Linked DNA regions of Homo sapiens. The protein of the gene in region 2 purifies or fractionates together with the protein of the main gene of each other region. This does not show direct contact. Each region holds a gene or a part of one and is shown on either strand. Other genes may lie near its edges.

Evidence for each region.
Region 1: the proteins of SLC31A2 (region 2) and SLC26A2 purify together in Homo sapiens (affinity purification with mass spectrometry; one large-scale study listed by BioGRID and IntAct). This does not show direct contact.
Region 3: the proteins of SLC31A2 (region 2) and ATP9B purify together in Homo sapiens (affinity purification with mass spectrometry; one large-scale study listed by BioGRID and IntAct). This does not show direct contact.
Region 4: the proteins of SLC31A2 (region 2) and SLC9A6 purify together in Homo sapiens (affinity purification with mass spectrometry; one large-scale study listed by BioGRID and IntAct). This does not show direct contact.
Region 5: the proteins of SLC31A2 (region 2) and SLC44A1 purify together in Homo sapiens (affinity purification with mass spectrometry; one large-scale study listed by BioGRID and IntAct). This does not show direct contact.
Region 6: the proteins of SLC31A2 (region 2) and SLC20A2 purify together in Homo sapiens (affinity purification with mass spectrometry; one large-scale study listed by BioGRID and IntAct). This does not show direct contact.

What each region holds. Positions count from the first base shown.
Region 1 is NC_000005.10:149,974,258-149,977,757, reverse strand, and holds part of SLC26A2 (sulfate transporter), read right to left. Parts: intron 131-3,500; 5' UTR 106-130; coding exon 1-105. UniProt on the Homo sapiens protein: Sulfate transporter which mediates sulfate uptake into chondrocytes in order to maintain adequate sulfation of proteoglycans which is needed for cartilage development.
Region 2 is NC_000009.12:113,149,624-113,153,806, reverse strand, and holds the start of SLC31A2 (protein SLC31A2), read right to left. Parts: upstream 2,801-4,183; 5' UTR 2,733-2,800; coding exon 2,727-2,732; intron 1-2,726. UniProt on the Homo sapiens protein: Does not function as a copper(1+) importer in vivo. However, in vitro functions as a low-affinity copper(1+) importer.
Region 3 is NC_000018.10:79,067,972-79,072,193, reverse strand, and holds the start of ATP9B (probable phospholipid-transporting ATPase IIB), read right to left. Parts: upstream 2,801-4,222; 5' UTR 2,784-2,800; coding exon 2,665-2,783; intron 1-2,664.
Region 4 is NC_000023.11:136,009,435-136,012,934, reverse strand, and holds part of SLC9A6 (sodium/hydrogen exchanger 6), read right to left. Parts: intron 2,494-3,500; coding exon 2,352-2,493; intron 1-2,351. UniProt on the Homo sapiens protein: Endosomal Na(+), K(+)/H(+) antiporter. Mediates the electroneutral exchange of endosomal luminal H(+) for a cytosolic Na(+) or K(+).
Region 5 is NC_000009.12:105,251,151-105,254,650, reverse strand, and holds part of SLC44A1 (choline transporter-like protein 1), read right to left. Parts: intron 1-3,500.
Region 6 is NC_000008.11:42,415,975-42,418,603, forward strand, and holds the end of SLC20A2 (sodium-dependent phosphate transporter 2), read right to left. Parts: intron 1,994-2,629; coding exon 1,829-1,993; 3' UTR 501-1,828; downstream 1-500. UniProt on the Homo sapiens protein: Sodium-phosphate symporter which preferentially transports the monovalent form of phosphate with a stoichiometry of two sodium ions per phosphate ion.

The DNA.
Region 1 (3,500 bases), on a different chromosome or scaffold from region 2:
TGATTCCCTTTGAAGTTCCAGATGGATCCCAGATGGATAACTGTCATTTCCTTCAGCTGAGTCTCTGGGTGAAACGTTATGTTGCTCTTTACTTTCTGAAGACATTTCTGGAGATAGATGGTTCAGCTTCCTACACCAGAGAAAATACCAGTGTTCATCAATAAAGTAATTCTCAGTGCTCACATATACTAACAATTCTATTTGTCATTTCATGAGAGTTAAAAGGAATTCAGTTTTGGAATAGGTATCTTATGTCCCTTTTCCTTAATTGAGCCTCATTTGTCTTGGTTAGGGGGAAAAAAAAAGACCAGAACCAGACCTTAAACAGCCAAGTCAAAGCAAATAACTGGCTGGGTACAGGACTTCCCAAGAGTATAAACCATTAAGGATTCTTCTCCATATATGCCTGGCTCCCCCTGGCAGTTTTTCCTCCTGAAAAGATGTAAGGGCAGCCTGTCTCCTTTCCATACATATGCTACCAGCGGTCTTCTTCCCAGGTTTTTCACCTCCCAGGCAGACTGCAAAATAGGATCTGGTCTTAACCCCTACCTTAACCTTAATGCCTGCCTACCAGTCCCTGAAACAAGGAAGATGGTCCTGTTTTATTTTTTGGTCCCTTTTTAAACAACCTGCTAAATGTTGAAAATAAATAGAAAAGTAGGTTGTAGGGTAAAGATAAATGTTTTTAGCAATAAAAAGAAACTAGGGCAGAATGCATTTGCGTCTTTGAACAGTACTCCCTTGCTTGGTAGGAAAGAGGAGAGAGAAGTCAATATGAGGGTGCTGAATGTAAAGGGCATGAAGAGGGTCGATGGGCCAAGTGTCTCATACATGCTGTAGAAGGTTTTTGTCTATTCCACTATGTTCTAGTATGGAGTCATCTGCCCTGTGGGCAGGGCCTACATTCATGCAAGATTCACTTTACTATTCTAAGTACACACACTGAAACACAGGTTAAATAGAGAAATAATGTTGCCCTGCACTTCCACTTGGAGGCAATACAGGTGATCCTTCATCTCTGTGTCCTAGACTATAAAACTAATGCCATAAGATCTACCATGAGGAACTATAGGAAAACAAAGGAGGTAAAAATAGCCAGAAAAAGAGAAAGGACAACAACAAATAGTAAGTCTAATAACCGGAGTAAGAGAAGAAAATGAACCAGGCTCTCAAAGGAATAGAACATAAATTGTTTACCAAATGCTTCATGAATTAGTGCCTTTACATAAGCTGTTTACTTAGCTTAGAATGGCCATCCACCTCTTTGCCTGTCAAGATCCTAATAATTTTTTAAAACCCAGTTACAATGCTACCTTTTCCAGAAAGCACTAACCAATCTCCCCTAGCCCAAATGAAATACTACACCCTCTGTGTCCCATAGCATGTTGCACCTCCATTAGAGTACTAACCACACTCTTGTATTAGTGAAGTAGGAATCTCTCTAGCTCCTGGAGGAAAGACATCTTGTTCATCAGTGTAATCTGAATGGAATGTAGTAACGCTGAGATAGCAGGCTTACAAAACATTTGAATGAATGAATGAACAAATGAACAAACATTTGTGACTGTGGCCAGATAGAGACATTTTTTTTTTTTTTTTTGAGACAGAGTTTCACTCTGTCGCCCAGGCTGGAGTGCAGTGGTGCAATCTCAGCTCACTACAACCTCCACCTCCTGGGTTCAAGCAATTCTCTTATCTCAGCCTCCTGAGTAGCTGGGATTACAGGTGCATGCCACCACGCCTGGCTAATTTTTGCATTTTTAGTAGAGACAGGGTTTCACCATATTGGTCAGGCTGGTCTCGAAGTCCTAACCTCAGGTGATCCATCCGCCTCAGCCTCCCAAAGTGCTGGGATAACAGGCACGAGCCACTGCACCCAGCCGAGACAATATATTTTAGATGAAGGACTCAGGAAGTTTCTTGTTTTGGAACTGACAGAAAAATGGGCCCTTGTGAAGTTCTATAAACCTTACGTTACCAAACTGCCAAAATCCAGGACCTATGACTTATTCAAGAACACAAGATATGTAAAAGTAACCCATATTCATTTTGTTTAGGTTTAACATGAGTAAATATTTTGATGGTCTTCTGAAGTAGATAAGGAAAGAAAGAATAGACTTAGGTGACCACTGACCCTGAGAAAATCAATCAGGTTGATGGATACACCCAGCAGCTCTTTGCTCTACAATGCAACCAGTCTGTGACTCTCCTGTCATTTCCTGCTTTCTAGAGCTAGCTTGAGTGCACCAACGTCCTATTTTGGAGAGCTCTTGGTGATTTCTGGGTGAAAAGGTTTTTCCAAACCTAAGATATGCAAAAGAGACATAAGAAAAAACTAAGGGAATCCAAATCTTGCCCAGTATGGCTGCTATCTGGGAAGAATATAGATAAAAATTCACATAGAAAGTAAAACAAAGAAATGGAAACTGTAAGAAAAAATCAAATAAGGAATGCTAAAAGTGAAAAACACAGTAACAGAGATGATGAATGCCTTCGATAGGATCATTACTAGACCTGAAAGCCAAAGAAAGAATCGATGAACTCAAAAAGACAGATAAACAGAAATTAGCTAAACTAAAACGCAGAAAAGTTTAAATAACGAAACAAAACAAAAAACCCCCAATATCAACAATGTAACATAACATCCAAGAGCTGCGGGACACATCAAAGTATCAAACATATGCATAATTAGAATACCAAAAGAAGAGAGAGAATGGGCAGAAGAAATATTTCAAGATATAATGGCCAAGAAATTTCCAAAATTAATAAGAGACATCAAAATATAGATCCAAGTAACCTGAGGCCAGGAGTTCAAGACCAGCATGACCAACATGGTGAAACAGGGTCTCTACTAAAAATATAAAATTAGTCAGGCATGGTGGCACACGCCTGTAATCCCAGCTACTCGCGAGGCCGAGGCAGGAGAATCGCTGGAACCCAGGAACTGGAGGTTGCAGTGAGCCGAGATCACGCCATTGCACTCCTGTCTGGACAGCAAGAGGAAAACTCCTTCTCAAAAAAAAAAAAAAAAAAAAGGCCGGGTGCAGTGGCTCACACCTGTAATTCCAACACTTCCGGAGGCCAAGGCAGGCAGATCACAAGGTCAAGAGATCAAGACCATCCTGGCCAACATGGTGAAACCCCGTCTCTTCTAAAAAAATACAAAAATTAGCTGGGCATGGTGGTGCGCTCCTGTAGTCCCAGCTACTCAGGAGGCTGAGGCAGGAGAATTGCTTGAACCTGGGAGGCGGAGGCTGCAGTGAGCCAAGATCGCGCCACTGCACTCCAGCATGGTGACAAAGCAAAACTCTGTCTCAAAAAAAAAATACATATATATATAATATATAATCTATCTCCAAGAATCTTAGAGAATTCCAAGAAGAGTAAATATAAAAACAAAAAGAAAACAAAAACCCTCACCTACACATATGATATTCAAGCTGCTGAAAACAAAAGATAAAGAGAAAATCCTGAAGACAAAGAAAAAACATATATTACTT
Region 2 (4,183 bases):
TGTCACCAACCCCTGCCTGCGCCTACCCAGGGACTGGGCTCACTGGAGACCGTGGAGCTGCAGGACAGAGAAAGAAATGTGAAAGCATCTGATTGGACAGAACAGCCACACAGCTCTGTGTCTTCTGAGGGACTGCATGTGCCTGTACCACGTTCACCTTCCATTTATTATGTGTCACTCCCTGTGACATCTCCGCAGGTGCCTACTATTATTAACCTCTTTAACAAGGAAGGTACATAAAAGCCCACTTATCTCCCCATGGTCACTCGGCAATCAGGTACCCAGAGCCAGAGAGTTTTCTGGAAAGCCTGTACTGGTTCTCAAACCTTAGTGTACTGGGTGTTTCTGGGACAGGTGTTTCTAGGACAGGTGTTTGTTGGGGGTCACACTTTGAGAAATCATAGGAACCATGATGGTCTCCTGTCAACCAGTAGGGACTGGTCAAGTAAATTATATGAGAGCTTCAAAATGGAAATCTAGGCGGTCACATCACAACATGATAAAGATCATGTTGAAGACTTTAAAAAATGTTGAAGAGTTTAAAAATAAGAATAGCTTTTACCCCCCACCCCCAATGGCACTAGCTCAATGTAAAAAGCTGACACAGTACCGAAAAGAAAGTAAAAAATCATTTTGAGTCTTACTACTCAGAGATCTCTCCTGTTAGGCTTTCAAAAAAAAAAAAAACATTTTGACACAGCAAAATGTTTACGCAAGATTGATATACAAAACCAAACAGGTACAAACAATACTGTGAAACTCCATTTACACCGGAGATGGCCTCATCCTCAGCAGAAGCCTCTAGCACCATCTCTGCCAGGTAGAGGTAGGGGTGACACCCATCACCCCTTCTCTGAGTCCATTTGGTAAAGCAGATGGTATGAATGGAATGTCCCTAGTGGCTAATTAATCAGTCAGGGAGTTGCCATAACTGGTTTCCTTCTATCATCCTTGGGCCTGGGCCAGTTATCTTAGGAGCCCAAAACAGCCCAGACATGTTTTGCCATAGACCTGAACACCCACAGAACAGTAAGAGTAATTTGAAAGATTTCTTTTTGTTGTGCTAGGTCTGTGCAGACCCTGGCGATACAGAGATGAATGGGACAAGTCTTTGGCCCTTAGGGAGCTACCTGTCTATGAGGGGGGACATTTAAGTGAGCAAATAATTACAACAGGTTGTAGGTCAGAGAAAGGGAGGCACAGTGGAGGCTCCCTGGGGGTGCTGGGGACCAAGCCGCCTGAGAGACACCTGCCCTGGCCAGAGAGCAGTTGGCTAGGATGGTTCTGAAGCCAGAGAAGCAGGAGATAGCTGGGAAGATGAACTGTATGGTTTGTTCAGAGCTGGAAACACCCACGGAGTCCGAAGCCCCAGAGGGACGAAGACTCACCTGTCACTCAACCCTTTCTACTTTTGCCTTTTTGCTAGAGGAAAAGATGGAAGTCAGCACACCCTGACTTGAGAGAAGCGATCTGGGCTACAGTTTTCAATTAAAGGGCTTTGTGGTCAGATAGGCAAGGGGCAGGGCCCCAATCTTGTTTTCCTACTTGGGATGAATCTTGGCCTCTGAAAGTTTAACTGATTTGTGCTTTTTTCAGGGTGGGGCTGTGGTGAAGGAGGGAGCAATCCCTGGAACTTGTTTTCTTCTATATTTCTTCATTTGGGGTTACTTACACTTTGAGAAAAGCTTCCTTATTTGTAAACAAGGGTTGGGAAGGAGATGAAGGTCCCAGTTGCTAGGCTGACTGGCTGGGGAACTTTTGCAAGTGCTTTCCATCTATTTCCCTTTTTAAAGGACGGCTGATCATTTCACTAAATGGCCTACATACACTTCCTATATCTTTTTTTTTTTGTTTTGTTTGTTTGAGGACGTCTTGTTCTGTTGCCCAGGCCGAAGGTCATGGCTCACTGCAGCCTGGAACTTCTGGGCTCAAGCAATCCTCCTCATCCTGCCTCAGCCTCCGAGTAGCTGGGATTACAGGCGCCTGCCACCACTTGTGGCTAATTTTTGTAGAGACGGGGTCTAGCTATGTTGCCCAGGCTGAGCTTCCTGTATCTTAAATTCTATGACATTCTTCATGGGATGAAGAAAATGATATGACTTCTTCAAAGACGAACGAGTCTTGCAAGCTGTCGTTCTCTCCAGCCCAGGTGAACCCTACCAAGAAAAACAGCTTGTCTGAAACGCTGTTTTCTGACTGAAAGTGTAGGGAAGCTGGAAAGTAGCTGGTTCTGTTTTATTCCCCGAAGAATCAGGCTACAAACTTGACAAGAGCAGGGCCGGGGATGTGCGCTCGGTGTGCGCGCGGGGCTGCGGGCTGAAATGCGCCGGGGGTTTCCCTTTCGTGGAAGCCTTCCTGGAATCTCCCAAGGCGCTGCTCTCCGCCCTGGGGCGCCGGCCAGAGGTCCGGGGCCGGGGGCCCCGGACCCAGCTGTCTTCAGCCACCGCGCCCCCACTCTCAAGCCGCGCCACCGCGGGCGCTCGGTAACTGCTCGCCTAGCCGGACTGCCTCCCAGCAGGAGGGACAAATAAAGAGGAAAACCACAGAGCCACCGCAACCTATACCTGCCGCGTCCCCCAACCCTGTTCCAGCTGTTGGCAATGCTGCCAACACACCCTTCACCAGCCCCGGGCCAGCGGCAGCGAGGATTCGGGGTGCCGAGATGGCAGCTCCAGGAGACCCCGCCCCAACCGCCCACCCTCTTCACCGTAGCGCCCGGCCCTTACCGCCATGGTGAGTGCGCAGGGCGGGCGCCAGGGCCGCGTCTGCTCGCTCGGGTCTCCTCGCTCCGAGTCAGTTCAACCGCCGCCGCCGCCGCCGCCGCGATAGCTACCCTGGCCGCACGGATCACGTGGTCCGGGCGAGGCGGCGCGCGGGCGCCTGGGAGTTGTGGTCCCCACACGCGCCCTACTTCGGCGTCCTCGGGCGCGCCCCCTGGCCGAGACCCAGGCGCCTCGCCCCAGGTTCCCAAGGGCTGAGGCTTGGCGTTCCCGGAGTCGCGAGCGAGAGGGACCACCTGCTGCCCTCTGTCTTCGCCCTTCCTGTTTTGCACTTGGCTTGTCTTGGCGATTATGAGAATGTTTATTGCTCATTGTAATAAACTACCCCAAGCGTAACATATATTGAGTTGAAATGGGCAAGTCCGTGCTATGGACGCAATAGCAACACATTTGGAGTAAATTAAGTCAATTATGCCCTAGATTTTTAGTGTAGTCATTACAAGATAATTACATTTTTCTTTTTAGAAAAATATTTTCCAATCTGATAAGCCAAAAGGAATACACCCGTGTAATTTTGTTTTTCTTTGATTACTAGGGTAGTAAACTATTTTTCTTACGGGTACTTCCATTTCTGTGTATTGCCTGTTCATTTCACTGATCCAGTTTTTTGATGGGGAGTTTCTTGTAGGGTGAGGGATTTTTAATGGTTATTGATTCTTAAGCATATTTAGGAACCCTTTGCTAATCAGCCTATGAGTAAAGAGGCTCTTCAGAGAAACCTTACTAAGGACAGTATTAGCAGAGACCTTGAGCCTGGAGCTAACCTCAGTTCACATCCATACGCATCAACTATTGGCTTTGGGACCGTAGGCAAATAGCTTACATCTCTGAACCTCAGTTTTCTGGTCAGTAAAATGAAAATAATAATAAAATCTATGTCATAGGGATTAAATGAAAACATACATGTTAAATTATCATGTAACCTGGCAGTGGGAGCTTGTTCAGTAAATGGTAGAATCCTCAGGGTCACACAGCTTTTTTTCTTTTCTTTGAAACAGAGTCTCGCTCTGTCGCCCAGGCTGTAGTGCAGTGGCGCGATCTTGGCTCACTGCAACCTCCATCTCCCGTGTTCAAGCAATTCTCCTGCCTCAGGCTCCCGAGTAGCTGGGACTACAGGCGCGCACCACCATGCCTGGTTAATTTTTGTATTGTTAGTAGAGACGGGGTTTCACCATATTGGTCAGGCTGGTCTTGAAATCCTGACCTCGTAATCTGCCCGCCTCGGCCTCCCAAAGTGCTGGGATGCTGGGATTACAGACGTGAGCCATCTTGCCCGGCCCACACAGCTTTTAAGATTCTCAGTCTGAAAGCTAATGGAGCAGCTTCAGGGAGAGAACATGGGCCGTGGCACTGTGATGGGGCTGGAGAGGGAGAGCTGCTGCTGTCATGGTTTACTGGGCCAT
Region 3 (4,222 bases), on a different chromosome or scaffold from region 2:
AGAAACACCCAAGAATGATCAATAAATACTGAAAAAAATTAAAAAAAAAAAGAATTAGGGAACTTGAGAAGAGATTAATAGAATTTACACAATCTGAACAACACAGAGAAAAGAAACAGGGAAAGAGCCTAAGGAAATTATGAAACACCAACATAAGATCCAACTTTCTTAACACTGGAAATCCAAATGGAGAGAAGAGAGTGGGAGCAACTCTCCATTATTTCAACAACAACAAAGAGTAGTTGAAGAAATAATGGCTAAAAACTCCCTAAATTTATTCGAAAACCAAAAAAAAAAAAAAAAACAAAACCAAACATGAAATCCAAAGAAATCCATGATAAGACACATCATAATTAAACTTCTGAAAACTAAAGACAAAGTAAAAACTTGAAAGCAGCCAGAGAGAAATGACACATTATCTACAGGGGAACATCAATCTGAGTGACAGCAGCATCCTAATCAGAAACCATGGACACAAGAAGGAAGCAGCACAAGATTTTTCAAGTGCTAAGAAAAGAATGGCAGGCTAGCAGCCATGGCTCACGCCTTAATCCTAACACTCTGGGAGGATGACACAGGAGGATCACTTGAGACCAGTTGGGCAATATAGCAAGATGCTGTCTCTTCAAAAAAAATTTTTTTTAATTAGCCAGGCATGGTGGTATGTGCCTATAGTCCCAGCTACATGGGTGGATTGCCTGGGCCCAACAGATCAAAGCTGTAATGAGCTACGATCGCATCACTAACTCCAGCCAGGAGAACAGAGTGAGACCCTGTCTCAAAAAAAAAAAAAAGGAAGAACAATAGAAAAAGGGGAAATATGCGTATGTGGTATATGCAATACACTATCTTTATCATCATGAGTTTTATAAACCATATTTGATGACTGACACAAAAACTGTAACACCATCTGATACCCAGGACATGATACTTAAAGTGAGGACCTAAGTGAAAGAAGGGTTTCCACACTTGACTGGAAGTGGTGAAATACAGCAATACACCATGGTGATAAGTCACATTTGTATATTGTAATACCCAGAGCAAGCACTGTAAAAACTATACCAACACCTAATCTCAAACACACTATAGGGATACCAAAAAAGTGTCCAAGTAACCCAAAAAGTGGCAAAAAAAAAAAAAAAAAGAAACAGGAATCAGAATGAGAATCAGAAGAAACAGAACACAGATAATAAATGGCACACTTATATTCTAACATATCAGTAATTATCGTAAATGTAAATGGTGTAAATATGCCAATCAAAAGAGAATGGCATAGTTGATAAAAAATATAAGATCCAACAAGAAACTCACTTCAAATTCAACATAGGTAAGTTGAAAGCTAATACCATGCAAACATTAATCCAAAAAAAAGCATAAATGGCGACATCAATATCTAATAAAGATTTTAGAGCAAAGAAAATTACCAGAGACAGAGGAACATTAACAATGAAAGGAACAATCCACCGAGATGACAAAAAATCTTGAATGTGCGTGCACCACATGACAGTGCTTCAAAGTACATGAGGCAAAAATGGATTCAATCTGTGATGGAAACCTATTTTGAAACAGGTGGCACATTTCCAACTAAAGAACTCCTAAAATTAAACAGATTTACTAACACAATTACTGTTATAGGTAACACCAGAACCCACTTCCAACCAAGCACTGAAAAAAGGGCACCTTACACATGTTCTACTGTAATCTCCAATAATCCCGTAAGAAAAAATATTATCCAGCATTTTACAGATGAGGAAACCATGGCTTGAGTTTAAATAAGTTACCCGAGAGTAAATCGCTAGTGGGTAAACACTCAAATCAGCGTTATAACATTCCAGTATGTACTTTGAGCTATATGTTAGTCTCTCAAATGGCCGAAAACAAAAATTATTCAAAAACTCAAATTCTGAAGCAACTACATATTGAGTGAAATTATGTTTTCGACAATTCCTCTGGAATAAAACTTCAAAAACTATAAGAAGCAACACTTTTTAAAATTTTCTTTTCTTTGAATGAGAAATGTTAAATATGAGCTAAATGCAATCTCGAGTATGAAAGGTCTGTACACTAATTCTACTGCTAACCTGTGACCCCACTAAACAAGTTAACCGTTCTCAATACCCCATTTCCCTTTCGTAAAAGCAAAATTACTTGTCGACAAAAAGCACTTTGTATATATATGTTTAAACAAAAAGTGTGCCTAGCAAAGATATCGAAATGTCGAAGAGAAGTCATTTCAATAAGAAGTGTGTTTTTAACAAAGCAATTAAAAGTTACATCCGTCACCTTCACAATTCACAGGGCTACAAGAACAAGTTTCGGAGACTCTGAAGTATCCGAGAAGTTAGCACTTTTGATCCCCGTTTACTTTAGGAGAGCAGCCACCCCTCAACACTGGACCGCGGTTCTCTGCTCCCGTTCTGGCTCCTACGCTCGGCCCAGGCGTCCCGGGGATGCAGCCGCTCGCCCCGGCAGCTGCCCGCGGCCCTCACCACCGGCGGACGCCACAGCTGCGGCGCGCTCAGAACGCCAAGGACTCCCGGCTCCCAGCGAACAGATGGGGCGCGCCGGTAGCGACCCCAGACCCGCCCGGCTCCGGGTTCCTGCGGTGGGCTGGGGGCCCCGGGGAGCGTCGGCGGGGAACGGGGCCAGTGCCGCCTCGGTTACCTGCTGTGCCGGTCGGCTCCCGGCCTGGGCCCCGCGGCGCTGTAGTAGGCCGCGCGTTTGCGGTTGGCTGCGGCCGCCGCTGCGCTACGCACCGGGTAAAGCGGGATCTGGTCCGCCATGTTCCGACCGCCCCTTTCCCGCCCCTCCCACTTTCCCCTCAATTCGCCACCTTTTCCCCGCCCTCTCCCCTCAGCGCCAACCCCGGCTGAGGCGCCGCCTGCGGGCCTTCCCCGCCTCCGCCAAGCGGCGAGGTCCGATGACGTAACGAGCGGCGGCGCGGAAGGTGTGGCGTCCCTAGGCCCCGCCCTCGTTTGGCGTCGGCGCACGATGACGTGCCCAGGGTGGCAAAAGCGCGGCGCAGGAGGCAGTGGAGTCCGGGCAATGACGTCACGAGTGGCTAAAGCTGGGACGGGGGGCGTCGCGTTCCGAGGCCCCGCCCCCGCCTCGTGACGGGCCCGATGACGTCACCGATCGGCGGGGCGGGGCGCGCGTGCGCCACAGGCTGGCCTTCCGGTAGCGCGCGAGGGCCTGCACGTGGGTCGTGGTTCGACCCGGCGCGCTCTGGTCCGCGGGTGGAAGGGCCTCGCAGCCGTCTCCTGGAAGCTCTGCCGGGGACACGCGTGGGCGCGCGCGGCCTCCTTAGCGGTCCAGAGCCTGCGCTGCCAGTAGTACGCGCGCCCCATGGCTGTGTGGGGCCCCACGCGCCCTCCTCGCCGCGCGGCTTCTTGCTTCCGCCCCGCGCTTCTCCAGCCTGCCTTCGGTGCCCGCTTCCTGCCCGCGCCCTTGGAACCGCTGGTGTCTGTGCGTTCACAGGCAGGGTCGTGCTACGTGGCCCGGGCCCCCAAAGCGCCGCGACTGCAGGCGCGCCCACCGCGCCGGGCTGAATTTCCGAGATGTTCTTGTCCTGCTTCCTCACTGCTGCTTCCTTCTTTCTCTGGTTCTGGGTCTTTAGCTTGATTCCACATCCCCCACCTCTAGGCCCACAGCCTGCTGAAAAGTCCTATAGGCGACTGTCAGAAACGAGGTTTACACCCTCAGTCTACACAAGAAAGCAAAACGATATTGAATAAACGAATACACGGCTTTGGTTGGGTTTGTTTCATTTCCTGTCCCGAGGACAGCTCCCTTCCACCTCCATCACCCGCTGCAGCTGGAAGCCGGCAAGCTGATGCACCGCTCACCTCACGTATTAATGGTTTACTCACTTTGTGTTTTTTTAAACAATGTTTTTCTGATATTCCATTTTCATGACATATAAATTTTGTCTATGTGTTTGAAACACTGTTCAACATGAACTTATAAATGCTTTTCTTTTCTGTTTTTTGGAGATGGGGTCTCTGTTACCCAGGCTGGAGTGTAATGTTTTGATCACGGCTCACTACATCTTCCACCTCTCAAGGTTCAGGTGATCTTCCCCCATCTGCATGTATTACTTTTTCATTATAAAAAATGGTCTTTATGAATATGAATATTCTTAATTTGTTGCTGCCACTCTGATTGCCAGTTTGCTTCTCAGCTGCTTTTCATGTAACCTGAATACATGCCACTCCACAGACAC
Region 4 (3,500 bases), on a different chromosome or scaffold from region 2:
GCTAGTAATGAGATCTTGTAACACAAAAGTGTGACTAGAAAAAATAACAGTTTAAGCAAGGCAACCATGAAAGAAAGGTTCTCTAGCTTCTCTAACACAGAAATCTCAGAATAAGGTACCACCAGAATAGGGAGACTTTTAAAATGAGCATCTTACTGAGGAGTCAGCTGCCTTCCCTTCAGTGAGGAAGCCTTACGGCTTAGCCACTCCAATTGTTTCACGGGTATCACACACCTTGCCAGAAACCATGCAGTAAAGGATAGATAGAGACGGGAGTAACAGATCAGATCTATAACATGCCACCTCTATTAATCTGAGACCCAAAGCTAGACAGCTTCCATAATTGTAGCAATTTACATTTATAAAAATACATAATTTCCAAGAGATTTTACACGAATTTGATCCTCTACCACTTCTATGATATAGAGCATTCATTCCATGATGAAGAAATTGAGGCACTTCACTGCTTTATACTAGTTTAACAAGTATTTGTTAGCTGACAGTGGAAGGGCCTGTGCCAAGTTACGACCAATCTCAGGCTAGAATCTAGAGTCATTTCTACAACTAGGCACTACAACAAAATGATTAACAAGATATACTTTCTACCCTCAAGGAACTTGTAATGGGGAAGAGATACTATCACTCTTGGCATCACCTTCAGAACTCTTTTTACTGCTGCTTTATGCCTCAGTTCACTTATAAAAAGCCATAAAAGAAGCCTCTTCCAGCACAAGGCTGAAGTATACCAAACTAAGAAGTCCTTGACAAAGAATAACGTATCTGTTTTATACAAGTATCATAGAAGTTTTAGAGCTGGAAACTTTTTTGTTTTGTTTTGTTTTTTTGAGACGGAGTCTCGCACTGTCGCCCAGGCTGGAGTGCAGTGGCACCATCTCGGCTCACTGCAAGCTCCGCCTCCTGGGTTCATGCCATTCTCCCGCTTCAGCCTCCCGAGTAGCTGGGACTACAGGCGCCCACCACCATGCCCGGCTAATTTTTTGAATTTTTAGTAGAGACGGGGTTTCACCGTGTTGGCCAGGATGGTCTCGATCTCCCGACCTTGTGATCCGCCCGCCATGGCCTCCCAAAGTGCTAGGATTACAGGCACGAGCCACTGCACCAGGCCAGAGCTGGAAACTCTTTAGACATCATCTAGTCCCACTCCTCTTTCCTACCGTCCCCACCCTCCAATTTCCTACACTGAGATCCAAAGAGGTGAAGTGTCAAAGCTTCTAGCATGTTTGTGTCTGCCACTATATCGAAAGCACCAGGGAGGCAGAGGTCATGTTTGTCTTCTTTAGCTTTGATACACAGAGCACAGCACATGTAGCAGGTGATCCAGACATGCCTTCTGGCTTTTTGTTTTGGGTGGGGGGTTTAAAACATGTTTTTAGGCCGGGCACGGTGGCTCATGCCTGTAATCCCAGCACTTTGGGAGGCCGAGGTGGGTGGATCACTTGACGTCAGGAGTTCGAGATCAGCCTGGCCGACATGATGAAACCCCATCTCTACTAAAAATATAAAAAAACTTGCTGGGTGTGGTGTTGCGCACCTGTAATCCCAGCTACTTGGGAGGCTGAGGCGGGGGAATCGCTTGAACTCGGGAGGCGGAGGTTGCAGTGAGCCGAGATCGTGCCATTGCACTCCAGCCTGGGCGAAAGAGTGAGACTCCGTCTCAAAAAAACAAATAAATAAATAAAAATAAAATTTGTTTTTATAGATTCAGGATGCACAAGTGCAGTTTTATGACATGGATATATTGCATGGTGGTGAAGTCCGGGATAAAATGGCCTTTGCATGAACACAAGAATAACTTGACTAAGTGGTAGTACCAGGACTACAACTCAGGTCCTTTGGGCTTCCCGTCCAGGGCTCTAGAGCACAAAGTTTAAAATCGGGAGAGCTGAGATGAACTCTTACATATCCTAACCAAGGAAACACATTTTGTTCATTCGGCGTCGCTGTTGTACATTTCCTATTTGTCCTATTAAACAAAGAGCAAAAGACTGCCAGGCTGACCAGCAACACAGAACACCCAGAGGCTCTTTGGAATATGTCTACCTTTACAGCTATTTAATCTACAACTATAAAATTCACCCTCAGAGAGATATCATCTCTAATTATACACTTGCAGTGAAAGTTTTAGGGCACCAAACCCTATGCAGAACAATACAGTTCTTTTATTTATTTATTGGCAAAGACTGTTGCTTAATGTTTTCAAACCAAGTACTTAGTTATAAGATTAATAATTCTAACATAATTCTAATCATAGAACTAGGAAAAACAACGGAATACAGCATTCAACTACTATATTATGTTAACAAGAAAAGATAAATATAACAAAAGGATATTAAAGCTGTCACCACTCCAGTAGCAGCACCCATTGCAAAAGATCCACTGAAGATTCCAAGGAAGATCCCAATAGACTTGAACATCGCTGTGACATCAAAGGTGTGACTGTTGTCTCCAGCTGGCTGGTATGCCACTATTGAGCTACAGAAGAGAGACTGCTTTTACTTCTGAAAACAACCTTTACTTTTAAAAAAACATTATGTAGTATAGAGCTTGAAAGATGAAATTAGAGGGAGAAGAAAAACAAGCTTTCGATTGGAATTGCCAAAATAAGGACAAAATTACCCAAAAATCCTGCAATGTATCTGGCTAGCAAGAAAACTTGGCTTTCCCTTAAATGTTAATTTCGGGGGGGGGGTAGAACATTGTAAAATCCTCTATATGAAAATTGCACCAAGCTTTTTCCCCCATCCCCAAGATACTGTGCAGTATTATTCTTTTGTGATTCTGTTTCAGAATTACTAGTACTGAGTGTCCGAAAGCCTTAACATACTAATGTGAACAAACTAATGAAAAATCCCACTTGTTTCCAGTAGAGGCATAAGAACATAAAGAACATTATTCAATACTCAACCCAGTCACATTTTGTTTTTCCTATGAGAAAAAAAGGTAACTGAAGGACCCTTCCAACTTTTAGAATTCTAGAATGGGCCAAATGCCTAATATCTATTCATTCACTGAAATGGACTATTATAGGAAAAAGCACTCGAAAGACCTCCCAAGGAATTAGAATCCACTCAACAGTACTTTCAGCATAACCAGCTGGATCTTCCACCTCAAACTTCTGAAAGAAAGTCACTCTATACCAGGCCAAGACAGGCAATTATAGGAGATGCTCTCCATCTTGAACTCACAGTCCAAACCTGGTCTGAAAAAGCTTCTTTTGTAACAGTTACCACCCCAGGAAATAGAAATGCCTGAGAAAATTGCTGTTGCCAGCAGGTCTTTGGCAACGGTGCTTACCGTTACTAAATCAGTTCTCATCTCAGTTAATTGAGAGACCAGCATTATAAAAAGTCCAGACTCAACAACATCATACAAATCACGTCAAAGAAAAGAAGGAAAAACACATTCCTAAAAATATAATGAATTCTCCCTGTGGTTGCTGCAATGTTTTTTTCTGATTCAAGGCTGAAAAATGTTTGCTA
Region 5 (3,500 bases), 7.9 Mb from region 2:
TAACTGTGTGACTTTGAACTACGAACTGTGAAGTTCATAATGGGGCTATAAGTAAAATGTTAGGAAACACTATAGAAGTCTGATTTAAAGACAAAAGAAAATGGCAAAACCATAGCAGATAGTATTGGCTGCCTACCCAGTCACCACGCCCAATCCTGCATCCCTGCCGCCACCTTGCTGGCAAAGTCCTCCTTTTGTTCCGGTGTTGCCCTGCCCCTCACTTGACTCAGAGGGAAGTCCTGGTTACTCTAAATCAATTGCAGAGTCCTTTGCCTTCCTCTTGTTAGAGCTTGTTTAGGGATAAGTGTGCAGCCCTCTCTAATTCCCATGAAAGGAAAACCACTGGAGATTGTCAGCTCAGCAAAAGACGGTAAGAAGAGCCATAGCCATCTTGGGATCTTGAGGGGAGCTAATTAAGAAAAAGCTACCTTCCGTAAAATGACAAAAAAGAAACAAGGAGAGAACTTACGTCCTTGCTGACATCAAGCCACTGAACTAACCAACCTGAAAGCTACCCTACCCCTTGACCTATAGGAGATAATCAATTTTCCTTAATGTTTTAGCTATTTGGATTTAAGGGTTTTTTTTATTATTATTATTTGTTTGTTTCTTTGTTTAAGACAGGGTCTCAGCCAGGCACAGTGGCTCACGCCTATAATCCCAGCACTTTGGGAGGCCGAGGCAGGCAGATCACAAGGTCAGGAGTTCGAGACCAGCCTGGCCAACATAGAAACCTCATCTCTACTAAAAATACATAAAATTAGCCAGGTGTGGTGGCGGGTACCTGTAGTCCAAGCTACTTGGAGGCTGAGGCAGGAGAATCGCTTAAACCCGGGAGGCGGAGATTGCAGTGAGCTGAGATTGTGTCACTGCACTCCAGCCTGGGCAACAGAGCGAGACTCTGTCTCAAAAAAAAATAAAGACAGGGTCTGGCTCTGCCACCCAGGCCGGAATACAGGCACGATCATAGCTCAATGCAGCCTCAACCTCCCAGACTCAAGAGATCTTCCTCCCACCTCAGCCTCCTGAGTAGCTGAGACCAAAAGCACACGACACCATACCTGGCTAATTTGTTTTGCTATTTTTTGTAGAGATGGGTCTCACTATATTGCCCAGGATGGTCTAGAACTCCTGGCTTCAAGTAATCCTCCTGCCTCAGCCTCCCAAAGTGTTGGGATTATACGTGTGAGCCACCAAACCCAGCCTTTTTTATTTCTTATAGCTGTAACATCATAAGTAGTTCAAAATGAAGAATTTTCTGAGATCATAATCATGATTATATTATCACAAATCTACAAAAACAAACAAACTTTAATACCTTCCCTGCTACTTAAATATCTTGAAGTAATCATGTTTCCAATTTTTCCATCTTCCTGCTGGTTTTTTTACTTTACATATTATAAACATATCCAGAAGTCAAACACTTCCATTTAATAATTTTCAGCATTTCTGGCAACCTTAAAAATTTGAATAAAAGTTGCTTTTAAGGGTTTTCCTACTAAATAAGTCTAAATATCTGGTTGTGGGATATTGTAGAGAGTAACTAAAAGGAATAATAATATTTTCACAAAAAAATAAATTCCAGGGGTTTATCAACCAAATGTTTGTTAAATGAATCCTATTATACAACATTATCATATTATACAATTACAAAGGAGTCCCCCAGAGGGGAAAAACTGGCATCCCTCTATTGAGTATAATAAAACATACTGAAAAATGTAAATCTGTTTTTTAAATTGCCAAAAAAATTACTAAATTTTACACAATGCATAAATTCAAAATTGGAACATTATGCTATGCTATATTCCAAATAAATTAGAAAACAAAAAGTATCAAAAAGGAGGAAATATTACTGTGTCAAAAACTTTAACCATCTTCACAGAGTGAATTCCCACAGCAGAGATAACAATGTCTAACTCTTTAATGACTTAAATTTTTCACCAGCTCAAACACGTTTTCTTTACAACGCTTGCCATAAAGTCTCACCCATTTGTGCCTGCTATAAAAACATCACCACTGTAAATCTGACTGGTCCATTACTTGAGCGCACTAGCCCTTTCCTGTCCACCTTGACCCAGTAACTTACACCTTTATAAGTATACTTGCTCCATACGTGACATGTATACCTTCAACAGACAAGCTGCTTAAGAGAGCCCTGAACATGCTGTTAAGAGTCTTCCAAAGAAGAATCGTTTTAAAATTCTTATAATGAATTTTAAAACCCCAGTGTTCTAAGGTAGGAGTTCAATCACCTCTATCCATGGAGGGAAACAGAATATCTGTTAATTCATTCAAATATTTCATGAGTACCTACCATGTATTGGTACCAGCTAAGCACCAAGATGGCAATAAACAAAGCAAACACGGCCCCTCTCTTCATCAACTCAGCCTAGAGCAAGGGTCAGCAAACATTTTCTGTAAAGGGACACAGAGTAAATATTTATGCTTGCAGGCCATAAGGCCTCTGTCACAACTACTCAACTCTGACACTGTCATATGAAAGCAGCTATAGACAAGTAAATGAATTAATATGACTGTGTCCCAATAAAACCTTGTGAATGAAATTAAAATTTCATAATTTATTAAATAAATTTCTCATGAAATCATATTCTTTTGATTTGTTTCAACCACTTAAAAACGTAAAGACCATTCTTAGCTCGTAAGCCATAAAAAACAGGTAGCAGGTCAGATTTGGCCCATGGGCTGTAGTTTGCCGCCACCTAGTCTAGACATTAATATTAACTGTAAAATTACGTGTTTACTGCTTTAAGTGCTCACAGGGAAAACACATAAGGCTATGAGAGTTTAATGAGGAGACATGGCCTAGTTTGAAGGGATCAGAAAAGGCTTTTCCAAGGAAGTGACTTTCAGACTGAAACTTAAAGCAACCAGCCAAAAGCCAGGGAGCAAAGCAAAGAGCCTCCTAGACAAGTGAACCACATATGCAAAAGCCCTCTAAGAGGAAGGAATACAACCAACTGAAGAATCTGTGAGGCTGCAGTGCAATGAGCAAAGAAAAGCACACCACAAGGTGACCCTATAGAGAGATGGAGAACAGCCACACACAGGGTCTTGTTGTCCAGGGTCAAGGGTTCTGGTCTTTGTCCTAAGAGCAATGGGAAACCATTAAAGGGTTTTAAGTAGGAGAGGAACACAATTAGCTTGGGATTTTTCAAAGATCACCAAGACTGCAATACGAAGAAAAATTAGAAGGGAGCATGAACAGTTACGGAGAGATCTGTAACCAAGGTACTGGGCTGGAGATGACAGAGGCTTGAACCGGAGTGCTGGCAGTGACGTTGAGAAGGTCAAAGAGGCAAGATGTGGTGACTAGATATAGAAGAGTGAGAGGCAGGTTCCCTACAGGACTCGAGTCTCCAGTTTCCACAACCAGGGCATTGGTATCATTCGGTGAACCAGAGATAAAGTACTGAAAAAGCCGGGGGTGAGGGGTACGATTTTGAGGACAGATTTAAACATGCTGAGTTTGAGTTGCCTGT
Region 6 (2,629 bases), on a different chromosome or scaffold from region 2:
CCACCTCAGCCTCACAAAGTGTTGGGATTACAGGCGTGAGCCACCGTGCCCGGCCACAAGATGCATTTTTCACACCTGCCACTTTGCCTCATCTGTCACCTTCACAGCTCCTAAGGGAGTCGGAGCTTGTGCCACCACCGCTACAGAGGATTAAGGGGTTTCCCTCTGGGGGCTCCAGAATATGCAAGCCAGGGTGTTTTTGGCTGCTTGAGCAAAGGATAAGACCTGCACTTCCCTGCTGGGTCCTCAGCCCTGAACATGGCAACCGACTGCTCCATGAGCTGCTGACTGCGGGTTTCTGAATGCGGGGCGGGGACGCCGTGCCTCCCTTTCCTGCTCACCTGTGTTTTCTGTACAAGCCCGTAACAGTAGTCAAATAAGGGAAACCAAAAAAAGGTATGTGAAAAATACAAGGGCCAAATTATATAGCTTTGGTTTTTGTGGAAACTCACTCTGAAAGAAAAATTGTCAATATTGAGAAAAAGGCTTCAGAGGCAAACTTCTGAGGGGCATTTTTTATTATAAATTTAATATGGTTGATTAATGAAAAATGACAATGAAGTACCAAGAAAATGTTTGTCAATATAAAAATTTTAGCAGCATTTCCATAGTTTCAGGCTCCAACATTAGTCGTACTTCCTCCCTCCCGCTATCAAAAAAAGAAGAGACTCCAATGGGATGGAGTAGAGCCTGGGGGTGTCCAGCTTTGTGTGGGCCTCAGAGAAATACTCCATCCAGCATCCAGGATTCTCCCTCCCTCTCATCCCTGAAGTGCTAGAATGTCAAAGCACAGAAAAAGCCTCCTTTGTGCTGACATTGGAGACAAGGATCCGTTCTTCAGGCTGCAGGGAGAATTGGGATAGAAACTGACTCTGGACTTGACATGTAGTGCTCAGCCACACGCCCTCACCAACACCTGTGCATTCTCTACTCTGATGACAAGGAAAGGCCACTGCAAGGTGGGTGGGATCTGGGGTGTGGTGGCGGTGGCACTGCTGGTGGGAGCCACGGCGTGGCGCATGCTGGGTGACGGTGTCACCGCCACACACTGCTCTGGGGCAGGCGTGATCAGTGAGGGTGGGAGACAGACAATGTGAAAACGTAACACTGGCCAATGATTCCCCTGCTTCTTTGGTACTTTCCAAAATTCTCTGATCAAAAAAGTATAAGGGAAGCACACCATTAAAAAATTACAGTTTTACGTATTTACAAAAGCAATGATGATATATTACACAACAATCAATACACAGTATATGAACAAATCTTCAGTGAAAGCACTTGTGAGCTCCCGTCCCGCTGTCATCCCACAGCACGCGACCTCTGCAGGGTCAGGTTGCCTGTTCTGAAGCTCATTACCTTACAGTATATTAGAAGGCAAAAACATCATTTGGAAAAAAAATCATTTTCCAATCTACACTTTCCTTTTAGAAGGCTTAACATTTGCCATCGAAATAGTTATGTACAAGATTTATTGAATATTGACTTCTAGGCAATGATCTCCACTCCCAACTTGAATATGTTTGAAATAATGCTGCCTATTCTATGGATACAATAGATATTTAATATATAAGTAACTGCACCACATTATATCACCACGATACCAGTTTAATACATATTATTATGTACAGTAGTTAAGTTAGCTCGGGAAGGTGAGTCTCCGCAGCCTGGGTGAACAGTGTGGGATGGAGCCTCCTGGAAGGGAGGCAGAGAGCTGGTCATGAGAGAGCCGTGCACGGCCAGGATGTGTATGTGCGGCACGAGCACACATGTCTCCCACACGCCAACACCAGACCATCCCTTTAGCTGTTTGCAGCTGGAAGAAGACAAATCACACATATGGAAGGATCCCATACATGAGAAGAGCCATGACAGCAGCGCTGAACAGCCCAGCCACAGGGACGGTCACGAACCAGGCCACGAAGATGTTCCGAAAGAGGCGCCAGTCCACAGCCTTGCGGGAGCGGATCCAGCCCACGGCCACCACCGAGCCCACCTGTGGGAGCAGACATTGCAAAGTAAAAACAGGTGAGCCACAAAGGCTACACTCTACCAATGTACATGGGCTAATCTCAGAAACAAGCTCTAGTACAACATTACCCAGTCCCCTACATTTGTTAAAGCTTTTAAAATAGCTTAGATTTTAGGTAGAATTGTTTGGGGATTCTTCTCTTCAGCATATAGCTCTTTATATAGTTGTTTTATATAGTTGTTTTGAGACAGTCTCACTCTTCACCCAGGCTGGAGTGCAGTGGTGTGATCTCAGCTTACTGCAACCTCCATCTCCCAGGTTCAAGCAATTCTCCTGCCTCAGCCTCCTGAGCAGCTGAGATTACAGGCGCATGCCATCACCCTTGGCTAATTTTCATATTTTTAGTAGAGACGGGGTTTCACCATGTTGGCCACGCTGATGTGGAACTCCTCACCTCAAGTGACCCTCCCTCCTTGGCCTCCCAAAGTGCTGGAGTACAGTGGTGCAATCTCAGCTCACTGCAAGCTATGTCTCCCAGGTTCAAGCGATTCTCCTGTCTCAGCCTCCTGAGTAGGTGGGATTACAGGCAAGCACCACCACATCCAGCTAATTTTCATATTTTTTAGTAGAGATGGGGTTTCGCCATGTTGGTCAGGCTGG